Linked DNA regions of Homo sapiens: regions 1 and 3 are each reported to be linked to region 2. The links are microRNA targets in miRTarBase. Many come from high-throughput screens and were not tested one by one. Region 2 holds a microRNA gene; each other region holds the end of a gene's coding sequence.

Region 1 (3,000 bases), not on the chromosome of region 2:
TTTTAATAAATGGTTTGTATTCTTTATCATGACCAGTGTGTCCAAATTTATTCACTGTTAGGTAAATGAGTGTCTTGAGTATAAATGAGTTCAGACCTTTTAGTAAAGAAAAATGAATATGTGAAAGCAGATTATTATTAGATGTTAAAGTCTAGATACAAGTCCAGGTTCTCTGGATGGCATTAGTCAGCAAATCATTTTTTCATTTTATAGAATTTACCAAAGTATTCATTCTTGCTTATTTTTCTTAGAATGCATAAACTTGTAAAACCTACTACTGAAAAGAAATATGTGGATCTTACTGTGTCATTTGCTCCAGACATTGATGGAGATGAAGATTTGCCGGGACCTCCAGTAAGATACTACTTCAGTCATGACACTGATTAATACAAGTTGTCTTAACGTTACTCCAGGACCACTTGATTTTGGAAAGAGTGCACTTAATTCAGAAGCTAAAGAAAATCAGTTCATAATACTATGGATTTCTCTTTCATTAAGCCTTAATTTTAAGGGAAACATCAGTAAGAAACTGCACTGAAGAATTATAAAACATTTTGGGGCATAGCATACACTTGTCTAACGGTTCACACGTGGCTATGATCACAAGCAACTTTGAACTGGAATGCTATTTACAAAAGTTTTGTGTATTAATCTGTGTATTAATCTCTCTGGATAAAAAGAAGGAAAAAATATGTATGACCAGAACAGATATGGATGAAGAAATTGAAAGCAACGAATGCAACTATTCAAAAAGTTTAATTTTATGAATTTCTTTTTTGTTTAGTCTTGAAGACTGATTTTCTATGCAAATAGTGTTTGGCATCCTGCACCTCTGATATGATTTGGCTTTGAGAATTTAATACCACTGGGAAGAAGTATGGTAGTGGTGGATGAAGGGTGGATATTTTAAATTGTGCAGTTACAGTTTACTGTCCTATTACCTCTGCTCGTTTAACCAGTTTGTTATATCACTGTGTCCCCAAAATCAGGATTTTTGTTGATAGCATCAGTGTTGTAGGAGCAATAGGTCAGATGAGACATATTAACTTAGACTAAACGTGAACAGTATTATATGGACTCTCACAACGCTCTTAGAGAATCCGTGAATGTGAACAGACAAATGTGGCTAACCATTTGATTCTTCAGTATGCCTTCTAATGTGGCTATTTTATTTATGTGAGACTCTAAACCTGATTGTCCTAATATATAAAACTAAAAGATTTTGTAAAGGGAGTGTCTTTAGAAATAGATGAAATGTAGAATGTTAAAAATTATTGCTAGGGTAGTCTTTTTTTTTTCCAGAAACCTAATTAGGGTATTAAATTTTGTGTTTTTTTTGTTTTTTTTTTTTAAACAGAAGCATGTTATTTCATTCCCATTCCCAGAAAGGGAGTTAATGAAGATAAAAATTTATTTTTTAAGGTCTTTATTGAGAGAAACTTTGTTTTCTGATATGAACTATTGCAGATGTTTTTATAAATACTTTCATTAAAATGATGTAAACAGTAGTACCCAACACTGTAAACTCAGTGAAAATAGTAAATGATTCTTTTATTACTAAGACTGTCATGCATTCTGAAGCAGTTGGCTTTTTTTTAACCATAGGAAGTAATTTCCCTCTAGCTCCTTTCCTTCTACTCTCCTGCTCAGACCATTAGTAGGTACTTTGTTAAATAAAAAACTAGATTAACATCAATATTACTCCAATTTGGTATCTTTTACACTATGTATTATACCTACTTTCTTTTTATTTCATTTACAAATAGTTTAAATTACTTTATCAACCAGCTGTATTGTTTCCCTCTTGTAAAAGTACCATCAAGTGGGGAAAATGTATGTGGAAGTGGAGAGTGAATTTGTATGACTAAAGGATAATCTGTACATGGGGAAGTGGGCAAAAGTGGATAGGATGAATTTAAAGAAAATGACTACCTTTGGAAAAAAGAAATTAAATTTTGTTCACATATCCTACCCTTTCCCATTGTGCATATCCCAAGTGTCATATTTAAAACTAAGGTTACTTAAAACAGAATCCAGGAATATCAAGGCTCTGTGGCTTGGAATTTTAGAGGATAGGACTAATAAAAGGACTTTTGCAAAGAAGGCTTTTTTCCACGTTCACTTTGTTTTGTGTTCTTTGAAAGTAACTGATACTTTTCGGGTAGTTAATTCAGCAGTCCATAAATATGATCCAGTAACTTGCTTATATTTTATTGAAGTCTCGACAGCTCTTCAGAAGTAAATTTAGAACGATGCTGTCAGTTCATATTTATAGATATTAGTGTTTTAGCAGATAAAACAAAATCAACAAAAATTAAGTTCATTTTGTGATTAAACCTGCAACCATTTTTCCATTACTTTTTTTCTATAGTTAATGGTTATTGCCATGATTTCTTCTGTTTGGTTCTACTAAGCTAGAAAGCCAGGGTGAAGTTAATGATAATTCCCATTATTTTATTTCTGTACCATGAGATTGCTGTTGATGACTGAAATACCAGGTGCAAAAATTAATGATTTGATTTTTGTACAGTTTCAATGAGTATTTTTTACTTATTAAAAATAAATTAAGAAATGTAAGAATATCTTTGTAAATCATGTTTCATAAGTTGACTCCAGAGATTCTGATTTTGCTGTTTATTTTGTGAGTAATGTTGCTTTGGTGTTTCCTGATTTTCAAGTTTGCAATCATGGAGATACAGCAGTTATTAGGTGTGGAAGGACATTACCTCAAATGTCCTCAGATGGCTCCAGGAAATTCTTTTAAAACAGTTGGAGAGAAATAGTCGTGACCATGTAAAACCTAGAGGATCTGGTAAATCCCATACTACTGGTTAGGGATTTGTAAAGTCCATTTCTTTTTAGAGTTCAAAGCAGTTCTGTTACTTGTCCATAAGTTCCTCATAAATTGTCCCAAAGGTAGGACATGGAAATAAATGTATATCTTTATTTTTTAATCTACTATGTCACACTCTGGTGATATTCATGGAACATTAAAAAAGC
Region 2 (4,354 bases):
TGGCACTTCATTTTCTTTATTAAACAAGGAGACTCAGAAAATCATAGTGGCCTGGGCCCATGTGAACCTCTGTGAAAGCCTCCCACAGGGAGAGAGGACTGGGATGCCATGGTCCTAGGTGGGAATGGGGGGAGCAGTGTAGGCCTCGGTGCGGACCCAATGCTGGGGCCCTAAGGCTCTCTCCTCTTTTCTTCCAGGTGGAAAATGAGCTTATATATGAAGAAGTCAGCGAGTGGACAAAGCCAGGCGCAATGGATAGCAAAGATGTGGAAGTCTCCTCGATTCAAGTTACAAGAAAACCGCAGCATGGAGTCTGCTCTCAGCTGTTGGGGAATTACCGATGCCTTTGACTAAGTCAAGACTGACTTTTCCAGAATATCACCCAAGAGATAGAGCCGTCCCTGTCCAAGTTTGTGCGCTAGCCCTTCATGGAGGTCAGAGAGGAAGAAACAAAGGCAGCTGTGGCCTCGGCGGTCACAGTGTCAGAACGCACAAGCCCCATAAAGAGGTTTCACGCAGGCCACCCATCCCTTTTCATTCTCCAGCAGAACAGGACAGAGAGCGTTCTGTTCTGCGGAAGGTCTTCCACTCTACAAGGCAATCCCTCCAGCTGCTTTGCTGTATTGTGCTGTCTCCTGTCACACTATGAATGCAGTGACCTCAGCCAGCAACAGGGAGAACCCCCCTGCCTCCCGAACAAAGGACCTCACGTGAAATCCTGAGCTCAGAGCTTACAGATATGTGTGCGCTTTCACTTTACATCGGCCGTGACTTCCAAACAACTTCAGGAAACTTTAGGATCTCTGAGGTATACTGGAGATGACAGCAGCGTAGAATGTTCATTTGGATTTAGAACAGAAATGCTTATTTTATATTTGGCTGCTCCCAAACTGTCCCCAGACTTCCTCTCCAGTGGTTACCCTCCACTGCCCTGGATGTCCCACGTTTACACTCCACACTCACACCTCCACCTTAACAAAGTCCTCCACTGGGTCAAACCATACATCGCTTCGTCTCTGTAGTGATGACTTCCTGTCCTCTGCTCTGTGGATAAAGACCCCAGATAAAGATGCCTGTGTTGCTCAACTCTTGTAAATACTCTTGAGACATTTTGAAAGCAGAAGGAAAGGAGACAGACGGGGAAAATAAAAGGGATGGTCTGCTTGTGCGGAAACGTTTTGAGAATGCCCTTCCCTAAGAGAGAACAGTAAAAGTGAGCAATACTTCCTGAGCTGTGGGTTCATATGGCTGGACTGTGCTGTTTCTCACGGGAGAAGTTCTCGTCTCCCCTGCGTGTACATCCCTGTTTGCCAGCCTGGCCTTCGGTGTGGTGATATCATGGTGCACTCCCAGGAGGGAAGTGCTTGGTCAAGACTTCTGCTTGGGTTCGACTATCAGTTCTGGTTTCCTTTAAGGCACAGGATCTTCCCTTTAAGGCACAAACACCCCCTTGACACAAAGTAAGGGACAAGGGAACTTTAAACCATTTGGAAACCCAAGCACAATAGGCTGTAGGTTGTAAAAAGAAATTACAAAGGTAATTTTATCCAGAAGAGGGAGCAGTTTAACTTCTGCAGGGTAAGATTCAGATTCACTTTTGTAACTGAACAGGGAATTTTCTAAATATTTTGAAAATGCCGAAACATTTCCTGTTGGCATTTCACAGAAACGTTCAAAGTTCCCTAATGATAGTTTCCGCTGTGCTCACTCCGGAGGCTGCTAAGCAACCTCAGTAATTAGCTCGATTGAGGAAACGAAACTGTGGGGGACTCAGTTTCCATGATAGGGAAACCAGGCAAGAAATATTGTCTCCTCAAGTTGCGACGAGACAGTAGTTCTTGCCTGGTTTCTCTATCATGGAGTCTTGGTTGGACTCTGCTATGCGTCTCTTGATGAAATGTGATACTAGCAATTGAACAATTAAGAAAATGGATGGCGGGGGGTGGAGCGGTTTGTCACTACTGGAGTTGCAGAGGCTCAGTGGGGGAACCTGAGAAACACTGCGTCCCCCAGGTCATCACCGCGTCAGCACTGATGAGTCATGTTGATGGCATGGACCCTGAATATGACACAATGAGATGTCACTTTACCTCTGTGGCCTTTCCCAGAAAAAACCATAACCCCAGTCTAACCATGAGAAAAATATAAGACAATGGTGCAGGCAGGGCATTTCAGGAGAGGGTCAGGTAAAGGGGAGGGGGTCCCAGGAGAGGGTCAGGGGAGGGGACTTCAGGAGAGGGACAGGGAGAGGGGAGGGGGCTCCAGGAGAGGGTCAGGGAAAGGGGAGGGGGTCCCAGGAGAGGGTCAGGGAAAGGGGAGGGGGGTCCCAGGTGAGGGTCAGGGGAGGGGACTTCAGGAGAGGGACAGGGAGAGGGGAGGGGGCTCCAGGAGAGGGTCAGGGAAAGGGGAGGGGACTTCAGGTGAGGGTCAGGGAAAGGCGAGGGGGTCCCAGGACAGGGTCAGGGGAGGGGACTTCAGGAGAGGGACAGGGAGGGGGGAGGGGGGCTCCAGGAGAGGGTCAGGGATAGGGGAGGGGGGTCCCAGGAGAGGATCAGGGGAAGGGGTGGGGCTTCAGGAGAGGGTCTGAGAACACACAGGCAGGCAACACCTTAAAATCCCATCTCAGTCAGCAATGACTCCTCATAGGGCCACCACGAGCTTAAATGTCACTTAAATGTCCCTATTTGCCAGCCTGGACTTCGGTGTGGTGATATCATGGTGCATTCCCAGGAGGGAAGTGCTTGGTCAAGACTTCTGCTTGGGTTCGACTGTCGGTTCTGGTTTCACATGCACTGTGTGAACACGCTTCATACAGAGGGTCAGCACCGCACTGTGTGAACATGCTTCATGCAGAGAGCCTGTACTGCACCAGGTGAACACACTTCATACAGAGAGTCAGCACCGCACCGTGTGAACATGCTTCATACAGAGAGTCAGCACCGCACTGTGTGAACACGCTTCATACAGAGAGTCAGCACCGCACCGTGTGAACACACTTCATACAGAGAGTCAGTACTGCACCGTGTGAACATGCTTCATACAGAAGATCAGCACCTCACTGTGTGAACACACTTCATACAGAAGGTCAGCAATGCACCGTGTGAACACACTTCATACAGAGAGTCAGCACTGCACTGTGTGAACATGCTTCATACAGAAGATCAGCACCTCACTGCGTGAACATGTGTTATACAGAGAGTCAGCACCGCACCGCGTGAACATCCTTCATACAGGTCAGCACTGCACCATGTGAACACACTTCAAACAGAGAGTCAGTACTGCACCATGTGAACATGCTTCATACAGAAGATCAGCACCTCACTCTGTGAACATGTGTCATACAGAAGGTCAGCACTGCACTGTGTGAACACGCTTCATACAGAAGGTCAGCACCGCATTGTGTGAACATGTGTCATACAGAGAGTCAGCACCGCACCGTGTGAACACGCTTCATACAGAGGGTCAGCACCGCATTGTGTGAACATGCTTCATACATGAGGTCAGCACCTCATTGTGTGAACACACTTCATACAGAGTCAGCACTGCACTACGTGAACATGCTTCATACAGAGGGTCAGCACCTCACTGTGTGAACATGTGTCATACAGAGAGTCAGCACTGCACCGTGTGAACATGCTTCATACAGAGGGTCGGGTCAGCACCGCACTGTGTGAACATGCTTCATGCAGAGAGTCTGTCCTGCACCAGGTGAACACGCTTCATACAGAGAGTCAGCACCGCACCGTGTGAACACGCTTCATACAGAGGGTCAGCACCGCACTGTGTGAACACACTTCACACAGAGGGTCTGTACCACATTCCGTCAACATGTGTCAGCACCATACCATGTGAACACGCTTGGTACAGTGATATACATGCATGTGGCAGAGCTGTGAAATTATGACCTGCTGCAGACAGACTTTGTACACTGTGCTATCAGCCAACTGGGCAAATGTGGACAAGAGTCCCTGCATGTCTCTATTCACCAGGTGTCTGTCAAATGAAATGGGCTGAACTGGATAATGGCAGGTCTGACCCATGATTACTGCCTGTAAGAGCTGAGTTATCCCAGAGTGTAGGCGTGGGATATTAAAATATATATATATGCAAATATATTTGGGCTGGGTTTGGTGGGTCATGCCTGTAATCCAGCACTTTGGGAGGCTCAGGCAGGCGGATAACCTGAGGCCAGGAATTCAAGACCAGCCTGGCCAACATGGTGAAACCCCGTCTCTACAAAAAAATACAAAAAATTGGCCAGGCACGGTGGCTCACGCCTATAATCCCAACACTTTGGGAGGCCGAGGTGGGCAGATCACCTGAGGTCAGGAGTTTGAGACCAGGCTGGCCAACA
Region 3 (3,000 bases), not on the chromosome of region 2:
CCAAGACCCTGGAGCAGCTCATCCAGAGGGGCATGGAGGTGCAGGATGACCTGGAGCAGGCGGCCGAGCCGGCCGGCCCCCACCTCCCGGTGGAGGATGAGGCGGAGACCCTCACGCCCGCCCCCAACAGCGAGTCCGTGGCCAGTGACCGGACCCAGCCCGAGTAGAGGGCATCCCGGAGCCCCCAGCCTGCCCACTACATCCAGCCTGTGGCTTTGCCCACCAGGACTTTTGAGCTGGGGCTGACTCCTGCAGGGGAAGCCCTGGTCCAGCTGGGTGCCCCCTCGAGCTCCGGGCGGACTCGCACACACTCGTGTCATCCAGATGTGAGCACCGCACCCAGCGGCAAAGAGCCCTCCCCCCTGCAGGGCTCCACCCATCACCCTCCCTCCGTCTGTCTTTCCGGCCTGGACCCCACCCTCCACACTCTCAGGCCATCACAGAACACCCCAGCTTCCTCATTCTGCTACAACACCCAGGCCCTCTGGACATCCAGAAAACCAAGTGTCCGGATGGCAGGGGCCAGCGGCCACCAAGCTCATGGGACACCCAGAGCAGAAGCTAGGGCAGAGCCAATGCTGAGGGAGCCTCGACTTCCGGCGCCGCCGCCCTCTCCCGGCATCCGCAGAGCCAGCTGACGCCCTCCCTGCCTCCCAGGGCAGCTGGCCAGCCTCGGGCAGCGCGGCCCCCTCCTCCCAGGGGAGAGTAGAAGTCGCACACGCAGCAGAGCAGACCTGATGTCCCGGTGCTTCCTGGCCCCTCAGGTGAGCCCCTGCCCCAAGGCAGTACCGGCTGTGGGGCATCTGAGAGCTGGCGGGATCCGGAGGCTGTTTTCTAGGAGAGCCCACTGAGGCTTGGGCCCCCAGCAAGTTAGCCAAAGGGATGGGGTGGGGCTGGCATCATGGAAGGGGGCATTGGGGAGAGTGGGCCGGGTGGGAGGCAGGGGCAGTTTGCTGAGCCAGCTCTCACATGGACCCGCGCTTTCTCTCCCCCAGCTCCAGTGATTCACGCCCGCCTGGAGAAGAATCAGAGCTCAGCTCATGACTCACCCATGGCAGGCGGAGGGTCCCAGAGGGGCTGAGTCCTCAAATCCGGCTGAGGCAGCAGCTGGCACCATCAGAGCCAGGAGAGTGACAACAGGTAACGGAGCACCACCCTTCCACCCAGACCCCACCATCAGCTGTCCCGGCCAAATGAGCTCCTCCCCAGACCCCAGACACCCTGCGGCCCAGGCCACTCCCCAGTGTTCGGGCTCGCTGGGAGGCTCTGACGGGGTCGGGGGGCCTCTGCCTTGGAAGACCAGCGCCATCCACCGGCCCCAGCCCCTCCCCATGGAGCCCTGGCTACTGTCCTGCGTGGTCCTTCACTGCCCACTCTCCTGTTCTTTCAGGTCTCAAGGTTCCCACAAAGTCTTTGCTGCTGTGCTGGGCACCACCCACCCCTCACCTTGCAGGCTGCCTGCGTGGGAGGCGAAGTCCCAGGACAGCCCAGAGGGGGGCTACAGAGAGGAGTCGGCTGCAGCAGAGGGCAGGAGCCCCAGCTTAGCCCTGAGCGCCAGCGCGAGGACCAGGGCCTGCCACTAAGCCCGCCCCGCTGGCCGCCAGCTGCCCGTCCCCAGAGCCACTGCAGCAGGAGTCGGGCCCTGCCTCCCTCCCAGCAGGGAAACCCCGCCCGCTGCCAGGCCATCCTCTCTGCCAGAGGCTTTCATGAGCCCCAAGGCTGGGGCCACAGCTCCTACCCCTGCCCAGCAGCCCTGAGCTCAGCTGCAGGAAGGACATCCCAGAAGCCATGGCTCCTGGGGCGCTTCCAGGCATTCTGCCCTGCCCCGACACCAGAACCCTGGTGCTGGTGGGCCACTAGCGTCTGCAGCCTAAGCAGGTGCTGGCTCAGGGTTCATCGTTCTGCCTTGTCCACTGGGGGACCAGCCCTGCAGACCACTCTGACAAGTCTTCAGCCCACACCCTGCCAGCCCCACAGATTTTATTTTTGCACATAAGCCATAACCAATCCTCAAGGCTGGCACAGGCTTTGGGGAAGCCCTGGAGCCTGTGAAGACCCTGGAAACCTCATGAGGCTGTGGCCAACCCCTGCCCCTTGCCCCACACAGACCAGGCCTTAAATGTCGGTCCAGGCCCTGTGCACCTTACCCCAGAGACAGACTCTTTTTGTAAGATTTTGTTAATAAAACACTGAAACTTCCTGGAGTGTTCATGTTGTTTCTTCTGTGTGCTTGGGCTGGGCAGGGGTGGAGCTGCAGACACAGGTCCCCCGGCCCAGAGGGTCACCCTGGAGACCCCATGGGTGTAGTGAGAGGTCTCCGGGGGCTCGGGGGAGCACCAACAGGGCAGCCTCCATCAGGGTCCTGGATCCTCAGGGGGAAGCACCCTCAGGGATCCACACTGCAGCCCCACTACAGCCCCACTGCAGCCCACTAGGCCTAGCTCAGCCCTGCCTCCAGGCCCGAGGTGGCCATCAGTGAGGGTGACTGCTGACTGGGGCAGCCCTGTTCATGCTGAGCTCATGCCTGCCCCTCTGTAAGTCCTACTGGCACGTGGGGTGTACAGCTGGGTGCATGGGGGGATTACAACTAGGGCTTGGCCCACACAGCCATCTCAGGCTCCGGAGCCCTGTGGACCTAGTCAGTGCAGACCCCAGCTGGGAGGGGACCCTGGCCATTCCTGGTTGCCAGATCATGAACTTGGTCTCTCTGAGCCTCAGTTTCCTCATCTGCAAAGCAGGGCATCTATCCTCAGAGCATCTGTGCTGAAGAACTTGGAAACAAGGGTAACTTGATGCCCTGCGGGACATCAGCCTCCCCCGCCTTTGTGGGGACACTGGATTCCGAGGGGCTGCGGGAGGTCAGCCTCCACTGCCTTTTTGGGGACACTGGATTCCAAGAGGCTGTGGGAGGTCAGCCTCCCCTGCCTTTATGGGGGCACTGGATTCCGAGGGGCTGTGGGAGGTCAGGCTCCCCTGCCTTTGTGGAGACACGATTCCTAG

Evidence for each region. The annotated mature microRNA hsa-miR-4645-5p reads ACCAGGCAAGAAAUAUUGU and lies in region 2 at 1,791-1,809, shown strand. An mRNA with a match to its seed (bases 2 to 7 or 8) in the 3' UTR can be bound and repressed. Matches are read on the target gene's strand: a 7mer-m8 pairs with bases 2 to 8, a 7mer-A1 pairs with bases 2 to 7 and ends in A, and an 8mer does both.
Region 1: the mRNA of UBA6 is a reported target of hsa-miR-4645-5p. The part of its 3' UTR that is shown has no 7-base or 8-base seed match.
Region 3: the mRNA of ARC is a reported target of hsa-miR-4645-5p. Seed matches in the 3' UTR shown: 7mer-A1 at 406-412 and 7mer-A1 at 1,014-1,020.

The regions. Positions count from the first base shown.
Region 1 is chr4:67,616,384-67,619,383 of GRCh38, reverse strand. It overlaps UBA6 (ubiquitin like modifier activating enzyme 6), which reads left to right. Exons shown (of 33, transcript NM_018227.6): 33 at 252-3,000. The coding sequence ends at 387. Among named protein-coding and RNA genes, the nearest start is that of STAP1, 59 kb to the right of the region's middle.
Region 2 is chr6:2,851,534-2,855,887 of GRCh38, reverse strand. MIR4645 (microRNA 4645) reads left to right here and starts at 1,781; the gene lies at 1,781-1,857. It also overlaps the pseudogene SERPINB9P1. RefSeq lists enhancers at 495-624, 685-744, 1,321-2,061, 3,357-3,546.
Region 3 is chr8:142,610,248-142,613,247 of GRCh38, reverse strand. It overlaps ARC (activity regulated cytoskeleton associated protein), which reads left to right. Exons shown (of 3, transcript NM_015193.5): 1 at 1-764; 2 at 996-1,140; 3 at 1,391-2,199. The coding sequence ends at 167. Among named protein-coding and RNA genes, the nearest start is that of ARC, 2.7 kb to the left of the region's middle.